Linked DNA regions of Homo sapiens: regions 1 and 2 are each linked to region 3. Evidence: fine-mapped expression QTL. A gene starts in region 3. Each other region holds a variant in brackets. All regions are shown on one strand. Distances are between the middles of the regions. Region 1 has its middle 29 kb from the start of REST. Region 2 overlaps POLR2B (RNA polymerase II subunit B). Region 3 holds the start of NOA1 (nitric oxide associated 1).

Region 1 (2,760 bases), 98 kb after region 3:
GGCAATAGGTCCAAACACAGCCCAGCTGAGTCAAGATGCAGATTATTGAGTGCCATGTAAGGATGTGAGTGCCAAGAAGCCCTGGACCTCTTTCCTTTCCCAAACTGTTTGGAAGGCCTTGAGTTAGCACCTATGCCACAACAGTTTTAAAGTGTTGCTTCTTATAAACCTGATTACTATTGACATTTTCAAACATATCAACGTAGAGAGAATAGTGTAGTGAACTTTATATATCCATCACTTGGTAAAGCACTGCTTTTTTTTTTAATTCAAAAACTAGCTGAGTCACATGGGAAGGTCCACGAAAAAAGAGGAAAAGACACAAAGTGCACGACTGGTTTGTAGTCCTAACTGTGCTGTGAATGAACTGTAATGCACTGAGTCATTTATGGTTCCACTCTGGGACTCAGTTTCCTAGTTAACTGAGATGGGATTTCTGGGGACTTTCCAGGCCTTGCATCCTACACTTTGGTTCTCATTCACTCCACATACACTCATGAAGCCACCATTATCTCTTGCCTTAGCTAATCTCCCTTTGCCCATTCCTGCTTCTCTACATTCCATTCTTCTTCTAGCAGCCTAAGAAAGATCAACTTTCAGAAATCCAAATCTCATCATCTGATCACATCATTCGCTGCTAAAATCTCCTCAGTGCTTTCACATTTCTTTCTTTCTTTCTTTTTTTTTTTTTTTTTTGAGACAGAGCTTCACTCTTGTTGCCCAAGCTGGAGTGCAACGGCACGAGCTCGGCTCACTGCAACCTCCACCTCCTGCATTCCAGTGATTCTCCTGCCTCAGCCTCCCGAGTAGCTGGGATTACAGGCACACGCCACCATCACGCCTTGCTAATTTTTTGTATTTTTAGTAGAAACGGGTTTTCACCATGATAGCCAGGCTGGTCTCGAACTCCTGACCTCAGGTGATCCGCCCACCTCGGCCTCCCAAAGTGCTGGGATTGCAGGCATGAGCCACCACGCCCGGTCCACATTTCTTTTCTTTTTTTCTTTTTTTTTGAGATGGAGTCTCGCTCTGTTGCCCAGGCTAGAGTGCAATGGCACGGTCTTGGCTCACTGCAACCTCCACCTCCCAGGTTCAAGCGATTCTTCAGCCTCAGCTTCCCAAGCAGCTGGAACTACAGGCGCGTGCCACCACACCCACCTAACTTTTGTATTTTTAGTAGAGATGGGGGTTTCACTATGTTGTCCAGGCTGGTCTTGAACTCCTGACCTCATGATCTGCCCACCTGGCCTCCCATAGTGCTGGGGTTACAGGCGTGAGCCAC[C/T]GCACCTGGCAGGCCCACATTTCTTTTAAAGCAATGTTTGAACTGCTTAACAAGCCTATGAGGAACTGCCTGATCTTGACCTCTCTTAGCAGCTCAGCCACACTGACCACTTCCAGCTTCAGCCTCCTTCTGTGTGCTGTTCCAACTACTTGAAGGGTTCTTCTGGGTCTCAGCACCCCACCTATCCCCATTTCACCACAGACACACTTTGCTTGGGCAACTTGCTTTCATTTTTCAGAAATCAGCTTAAATGTCATATCCTCCAGGAAGCATTCATCTGAACTCAACCAAGTCCTGCTAAAGCTATATATGCTCTGTTAGCCCCCAGTACTTGGATTAAGTGGCCCTAAGCACCATCTTAATTAATTAGTTATTTGTGTATTATTTTAATGACTGATTCCCCTAACAGACTGTAAATCCCATAATGTCAGTATTTGCTGTTTTGGTCACCATTACAACTCCAGCACCTAGCACAGTGCCTGGCACAGAATAGCCATTCAAATAAATATTTGTGGACACATGACTAATTCCCTGCTAGGCCTTAGGGATAAAAAGAAGCTCACAATTTAGTGGAGAGTACAGACTGATAAGTCAGTGGGAAGATGAAAACGCATCTCTAGAAGTGCTGGGGGGAAAAGAATGCATGACATCTGAGGAGACCCATGAAAGGGGTGCTTAATGCAGGCTGGGTCAGAATAGGCCTACAGGAGAGGCAACAGTGACTTTGTGGAGGAAATCCATCCATAAGCCTCAAATGCAGAGCAGTATCTGTAGGGAGGGGTGGGGTGACCCTTTAAGAATGTTTAGAGATTCCTACTTGATATTTTCCCTGACTTATTTGGCCTGTAGTCAGGTGCCATCCATTAGAGAATAATCACTGAAAATTTGTCTGCTAGCAAGTTTAAGGTCATCTTGAACTGAAAGTCGAAATAAAATGGACTTAAATGAAATAAGCCAGTCACAGAAAAATAAATACCCTATGTTCTCACTCATACATGGAAGCCAAAAAAGTTGATCTCGGGCTGGGCACAGTGGCTCATGCCTGTAATCCCACCACTTTGGGAGGTTGAGGCGGGTGGATCACGAGGTCAGGAGTTCGAGACCAGTTTGGCCAAAATGGTGAAACCCTGTCTCTACTAAAAATACAAAAAATAGCTGGGCGTGGTGGTGTGAGCTTGTAGTCCCAGCTACTCAGGAGGCTGAGGCAGGAGAATCACTTAAACCCGGGAGGCAGAGGTTGCAGTGAGCCGAGATCATGCCGCTGCACTCCAGCCTGGGCGACAGAGTGAGACTCCATCGCGGGGGTGGGGGTAGTTGATCTCATAGAAGTAGGGAGTAGAGGCTGGGTGTGATGGCTCATGCCTGTGATCCCAGCACTTTGGGAGGCCAAGGGGGAGTTGAAGCCAGGAGTTCCAGAGCAGCTTGGCCAACATGGTGAAACCCCATCTCTCCTAAAAATACAAAAAATTAGCCAGGCA
Region 2 (2,760 bases), 23 kb before region 3:
ACCTGTGGTCCCAGCTACTCAGGAGGCTGAGGTGGGAGAATTACTGGTGCCCGGGAAGTCGAGGTTGCAGTGAGCTGTAATTTCACCACTGCACTCCAGCCTGGGTGACAGAGCGAGACCCTTTCTCAAATAATAATAAGGTATGTAACTACTGGCAAAATCTGAAAGTAAAATCTAACCAGAACCCAATTTTCTCATGTAACCACACCAACAAATATTCAAATAACTAAAATATACTCCCTGTTCTAACTTTGTGACAAAGATTTAGCCTGCAAAATCTGTGACAAAGATTTCTCTGTAGTCTTAAGCGCTCTGGACAATTTAAGACAATTTTAAGAATATCATTTACTGTTCAGATAAGGAGCATCAATGGAAAAAATTTATAAGGAACTGGACATTTAACCTCAAAAATCCTTCCCATAAAAGGTTCCCACAAAAATAGTAACCTTACAGTGGAGGTACCTAACAGACACCACTGTGAAGCGATCAAAGTTAACAGTACCATTAATGGGGCAAAATGACATCACATGACTCTTGTTGAGATGCCCTGGGAAGCATATAATATTACTTAAGTATTTTTTCTGCCAAAAAAGTGCATAAATTGAATCTAATCATGGGGAAATATGTGAAAAACACAACTGAGGACAATTCTACAAAATAAATGGCCTGTCCTCTATATACTTTGTTATGAAAGACAAAGAAAGGCCGAGGAGGCCAGGCACGCTGGCTCATGCCTGTAATCCCAGCACTTGGGAGGCCTACGCAGGCTGCCCCTCACTTGAGATCAGGAGTTTGTGACCAGTTTGGCCAACACAGTGAAACCCTGTCTCTACTAAAACTACAAAAATTAGCCAGGTGTGGTGGCACGTGCCTGTAATCCCAGCTACTCACAAGGCTGAGGCAGGAGAATCGCTTGAACCCAGGAGGCAGAGCTGAGATTGTGCCACTGCACTCCAGCCTGGGCGACAAAGCGCGACCTTGTCTCCAAAAAAAATAAGGCCAAGGAAGGATTGTAAAAGACTAAAAAGACATATAATCAAAATGCAATGCGTTATTCTGAATTGAACTCTGAACTATAAAAGAGATTAAACTTGAATTACTATATACTATTAATGTACAGATCTTATTACTTAATAGTTTTCAATATTATCAGGACAACTGACAAAAATCTGAGTCAGATCTGTACATTAACAGTATTGTTGTAATCCTATCACTTTGGGAGGCCGAGGTGGGCAGATCACCTGAGGTCAGGGGTTTGAGACCAGCCTGGCCAACACAGTGAAACCCCGTCTCTACTAAAAATACAAAAATTAGCTGGGCGTGGTGGCACGTGCCTGTAGTCCCAATTACTTGGGAGGCTGAGGCAGGAGAATCACTTGAACCTGGGAGACGGAGGTTGTGGTGAGCCGAGATCGTGCCACTGCACTCCAGCCTAGGCAACGGAGTGAGACTCTATCCTCCCCCCC[A/C]AAAAAAACAGTATTGTATCTAAGTAAAATGTTCTAATTTAAATGATTATACTACGATTATTTAAGTGAATGTACTGATTCTTAGGAAATATACACTGAAGTCTTTAGGAGTAAGAGGCTATTGGCTATAACTTACTCTCCGATGGTCCAGAAAAAAAATGTGTTATATATAGAAAGAATGAATGATAAAGCAAATGTGACAAAAGTAACAACTGTTGAATTTGGGTGAAGAGCATATAAGACTTTTATATATTATTCTTGCAACTTTTCTTATTTTGAGACAAGGTCTTACTCTGTCACCCAGGCTGGAGTGGGGAGGCATGATTAGGGTTCACTGCAGCCTCCACCTCCTGGGCTCAAGCGATCTTCCCAACTCAGCCTCCGCAGTAGCTGGGACTACAGGAACATGCCACCATGCCTGGTTAACCTTTTGCATTTTTTGTAGAGACAGGTCTCCCTGTGTTGCCCAGACTGGTCTTGTGGACTCAAGTGATCCTCCCGCCCTGGCCTCCCAAAGTGCTGAGATTATAGGCGTGAATCACCATGACTGGCCTTTTTGTAACTTTTCTGTAAGTCTGAAATTATTTCAAAATAAAAAGTTAAACAACAGGTATCAACTACTCATTTTCCCTTTTTACTAAATTGCACCAAGCTGGTGTGCTTCTGCGAGCTTCCTTACCAATGTTTCTTCTTGCTGCTGTCATTAACTCCAGCTGCCTCTGGTTTTCATGTCTATTTTACAACAAACTGTCAGAAAAGAGACCCAGGCAGGGCTGAAAGCTTTCACTACACAGTAAATGGCATAAGATTTGTGACAGCTAAATTACTCTTCAGAACAGCTTTCTACTATGTTTTAAGGTTAGCAACAATCAGTAACTCTAAATCTCTTATAAAGCTCTGTGAATACATTTTGCTTTCACATTACCATTTCCATCATCTCTGGATCTTCAAAATCATAAATAATATGTTCTAAAATATCTCTGTCGGACACAAAACCTAATGCTCTGAACACAATAATGATGGGAACTTCTTGCTTGATATATGGTAGAGTTGCCACAATGCGCTGACCAATAGCACTCTTCTTGGCACCCTAGAAAAATAAAGTATCATTAGAACATGAATATACAAAAGCTCACAGCAATATAAAAACACCAAGAGAACTATTTAATATATATATATTCTTTGTGCACATTTCAAAAGAAGCACGCCTCCCAATACTGTGAGGAACCTCCTATGACTGCTTTTCAAAACCACCGAAACAAGTATACTAATTTTACATACAGGCTCAGGTCAC
Region 3 (2,760 bases):
GACAAAAACCGCCCAGAAGCCAGCAGCGCCAGGAGCTAAAGACGAAGTAACTTCCGTCTCCGACGTTCCCAGAATACCACGCGTCTCACACCAAAGGCCGCCCACAGGGACGCCAAAGTTAGGATCTGCGCCTGCGCAAATTGTAGGTCAAGCTTGGGCCGGGGTTAGGGTTGCACACGCGTAAATTGTGGGCCGCCGCTGCCGGGCTGATTGAGAGGACAGCTCCCGCAATCTGCGGTCGTATCCGTTCCGTCAATGTTTTATTTCTGCTTGTTTTTCAATGTTGTTGCACAAATAACGACACCTGAAAACAAAACCAGGTATACTTATTATTAAAAAGTGTTCGTCCTGTGAATCCGCAACATTGGGATGCTCAATTTATTTGCCTTTATAAGGACCAAAACACGAAGCTATTTTTTATTTTTATTTATTTATTATTTTTTGAAATGGAGTCTCGCTCTGTCGCCCAGGCTGGAGTGCAGTGGAGCGATCTCGGCTCACTGCAACCTCCGTCTCCCGGGTTCAAGCGATTCTCCTGCCTCGGCCTCCCAAATAGCTGGGATTACAGGCAAGGGTCACCACGCCCGGGTAATTTTTGTATTTTTAGTAGAGACGGGGTTTCACCACGTTGGCCAGGCTGGTCTCGAACTGCTGACCTCAGGTGATCCACCCGCCTCGGCCTCCCAAAGTGCTGGGATTACAGGCGTGAGCCACGCGCCCGGCCGGAAGCTCCTTTCTGTTTTTGTTTTGTTTTGTTTTTTTGAGACAGGCTCGCTCTGTCGCCCAGGCTGGAGTGCAGTGGCGCGATCTCGGCTCACTGCAACCTCCGCCTCCCGCGTTCAAGCCATTCTCCTGCCTCAGCCTCCCGAGTAGCTGGGACTACAGGCGCCCGCCACCACGCCTGGCTAATTTTTTGTATTTTTAGCAGAGATGGGGGTTTCACCGTGTAAGCCAGGATGGTCTCGATCTCCTGACCTCATGATCCGCCCGCCTCGGCCTCCCAAATTGCTGGGATTACAGGCGTGAGCCACCGCGCCCGACCCCGGAAGCTCCTTTTTAAGTGTGATTTATTAAGGGCGGCTTGTGCTAGCAGTGAGGCGTTAAGCCTGAAAGTGAAAAAACCCAAAACACTCACTGCTCTTTTCTGCCCACCTAGCTCAATCCTCCAGTGCCTTTGCCATAGCTTTAAGTAGGTTCTCAGTCTCAGAGCTTAAATCGCGAGAACTGACGGGATTAGACGCAAAACCAACCAGGACAGCTCCCAAGTACCCACGCGCTTTCGTCTCGGGTCAAATGCGCGCCTCGGACCCTAGTGCGCGTGCGCGCTGGTGGCTCCGCCCCTTTGGAGCTACTTCCTCATGCTGCCCGCTCGCCTACCGTTCAGGCTGCTGAGCCTTTTCCTTCGTGGATCCGCTCCCACGGCAGCGCGCCATGGCCTCCGGGAGCCGCTCCTGGAGAGGAGGTGCGCTGCCGCCTCCTCCTTCCAGCACTCATCGAGTCTGGGACGCGAGCTTCCTTATGACCCCGTGGACACGGAGGGCTTTGGAGAAGGTGGTGACATGCAGGAGCGTTTTCTGTTCCCGGAGTACATCCTGGATCCGGAGCCGCAACCCACCCGCGAAAAGCAGCTGCAGGAGCTCCAGCAACAGCAGGAGGAGGAGGAGCGACAGAGGCAGCAGCGGCGGGAGGAGCGGCGACAGCAAAACCTACGGGCCAGGTCCCGGGAGCACCCGGTCGTGGGGCACCCGGACCCGGCATTGCCGCCCAGCGGCGTGAACTGCTCGGGCTGTGGGGCAGAGCTGCACTGCCAGGACGCCGGAGTGCCCGGCTACCTGCCCCGAGAGAAGTTCCTCCGCACGGCGGAGGCAGACGGCGGGCTGGCACGGACCGTGTGCCAGCGCTGCTGGCTGCTGTCGCACCACCGGCGCGCTCTACGCCTGCAGGTGAGCCGCGAGCAGTACCTGGAGCTGGTGAGCGCCGCGTTGCGGCGGCCCGGCCCCTCCCTGGTGCTCTACATGGTGGACCTGCTGGACCTGCCCGACGCCCTGCTGCCCGACTTGCCCGCGCTGGTGGGCCCCAAGCAGCTGATCGTGCTGGGAAACAAAGTGGACCTCCTGCCCCAGGATGCTCCTGGCTACCGGCAGAGGCTGCGGGAGCGACTGTGGGAGGACTGTGCCCGCGCCGGGCTCCTGCTGGCCCCTGGCCACCAAGGGCCACAGCGCCCCGTCAAGGACGAGCCACAGGACGGGGAGAATCCGAATCCGCCGAACTGGTCCCGCACAGTGGTCAGGGACGTGCGGCTGATCAGCGCCAAGACCGGCTATGGAGTGGAAGAGTTGATCTCTGCCCTTCAGCGCTCCTGGCGCTACCGTGGGGACGTCTACTTAGTGGGCGCCACCAACGCCGGCAAATCCACTCTCTTTAACACGCTCCTGGAGTCCGATTACTGCACTGCCAAGGGCTCCGAGGCCATCGACAGAGCCACCATCTCCCCTTGGCCAGGTGAGTTTTAGGAGGCTCGCCCTCTTCGTTTCCTGGCAAGGTGGACGTCTGGTCCTGGCCGAGGCACCGAGTACATCCTCCCTTAATGTCCACTGCGGGCTGCCTGTACCCTTCCCTTTACAAATTCTCTCCCCACTCTGGTCACACCTCTCTTCTGTGTCAGCTTACTGCTAGGGAAAATTGAGGATGTGTTGTAGTAATTTTCAATGGAAGTGTTTATGGAGCACGTCTCTGTTCCCAGTCACTAAGCACTGGAGA

The links. PIP is the estimated chance that this variant, and not a neighbour inherited with it, causes the effect.
Region 1: its variant is the best candidate, but not a certain one, in a credible set for the expression of NOA1 in whole blood (TOPMed, PIP 0.57).
Region 2: its variant is the best candidate, but not a certain one, in a credible set for the expression of NOA1 in whole blood (TOPMed, PIP 0.81).

What each region holds. Positions count from the first base shown.
Region 1 is chr4:56,877,820-56,880,579 of GRCh38, reverse strand. No RefSeq gene overlaps it. Among named protein-coding and RNA genes, the nearest start is that of REST, 29 kb to the left of the region's middle. The variant C/T (reference allele first, on the strand shown) is at 1,283.
Region 2 is chr4:56,999,413-57,002,172 of GRCh38, reverse strand. It overlaps POLR2B (RNA polymerase II subunit B), which reads right to left. Exons shown (of 25, transcript NM_000938.3): 7 at 2,392-2,556. Among named protein-coding and RNA genes, the nearest start is that of POLR2B, 22 kb to the right of the region's middle. The variant A/C (reference allele first, on the strand shown) is at 1,467.
Region 3 is chr4:56,976,184-56,978,943 of GRCh38, reverse strand. NOA1 (nitric oxide associated 1) reads left to right here and starts at 1,338. Exons shown (of 7, transcript NM_032313.4): 1 at 1,338-2,502. The coding sequence starts at 1,359. POLR2B (RNA polymerase II subunit B) reads right to left here and starts at 48. Exons shown (of 25, transcript NM_000938.3): 1 at 1-48. RefSeq lists enhancers at 1,596-1,665, 2,046-2,105 and a silencer at 1,766-1,845.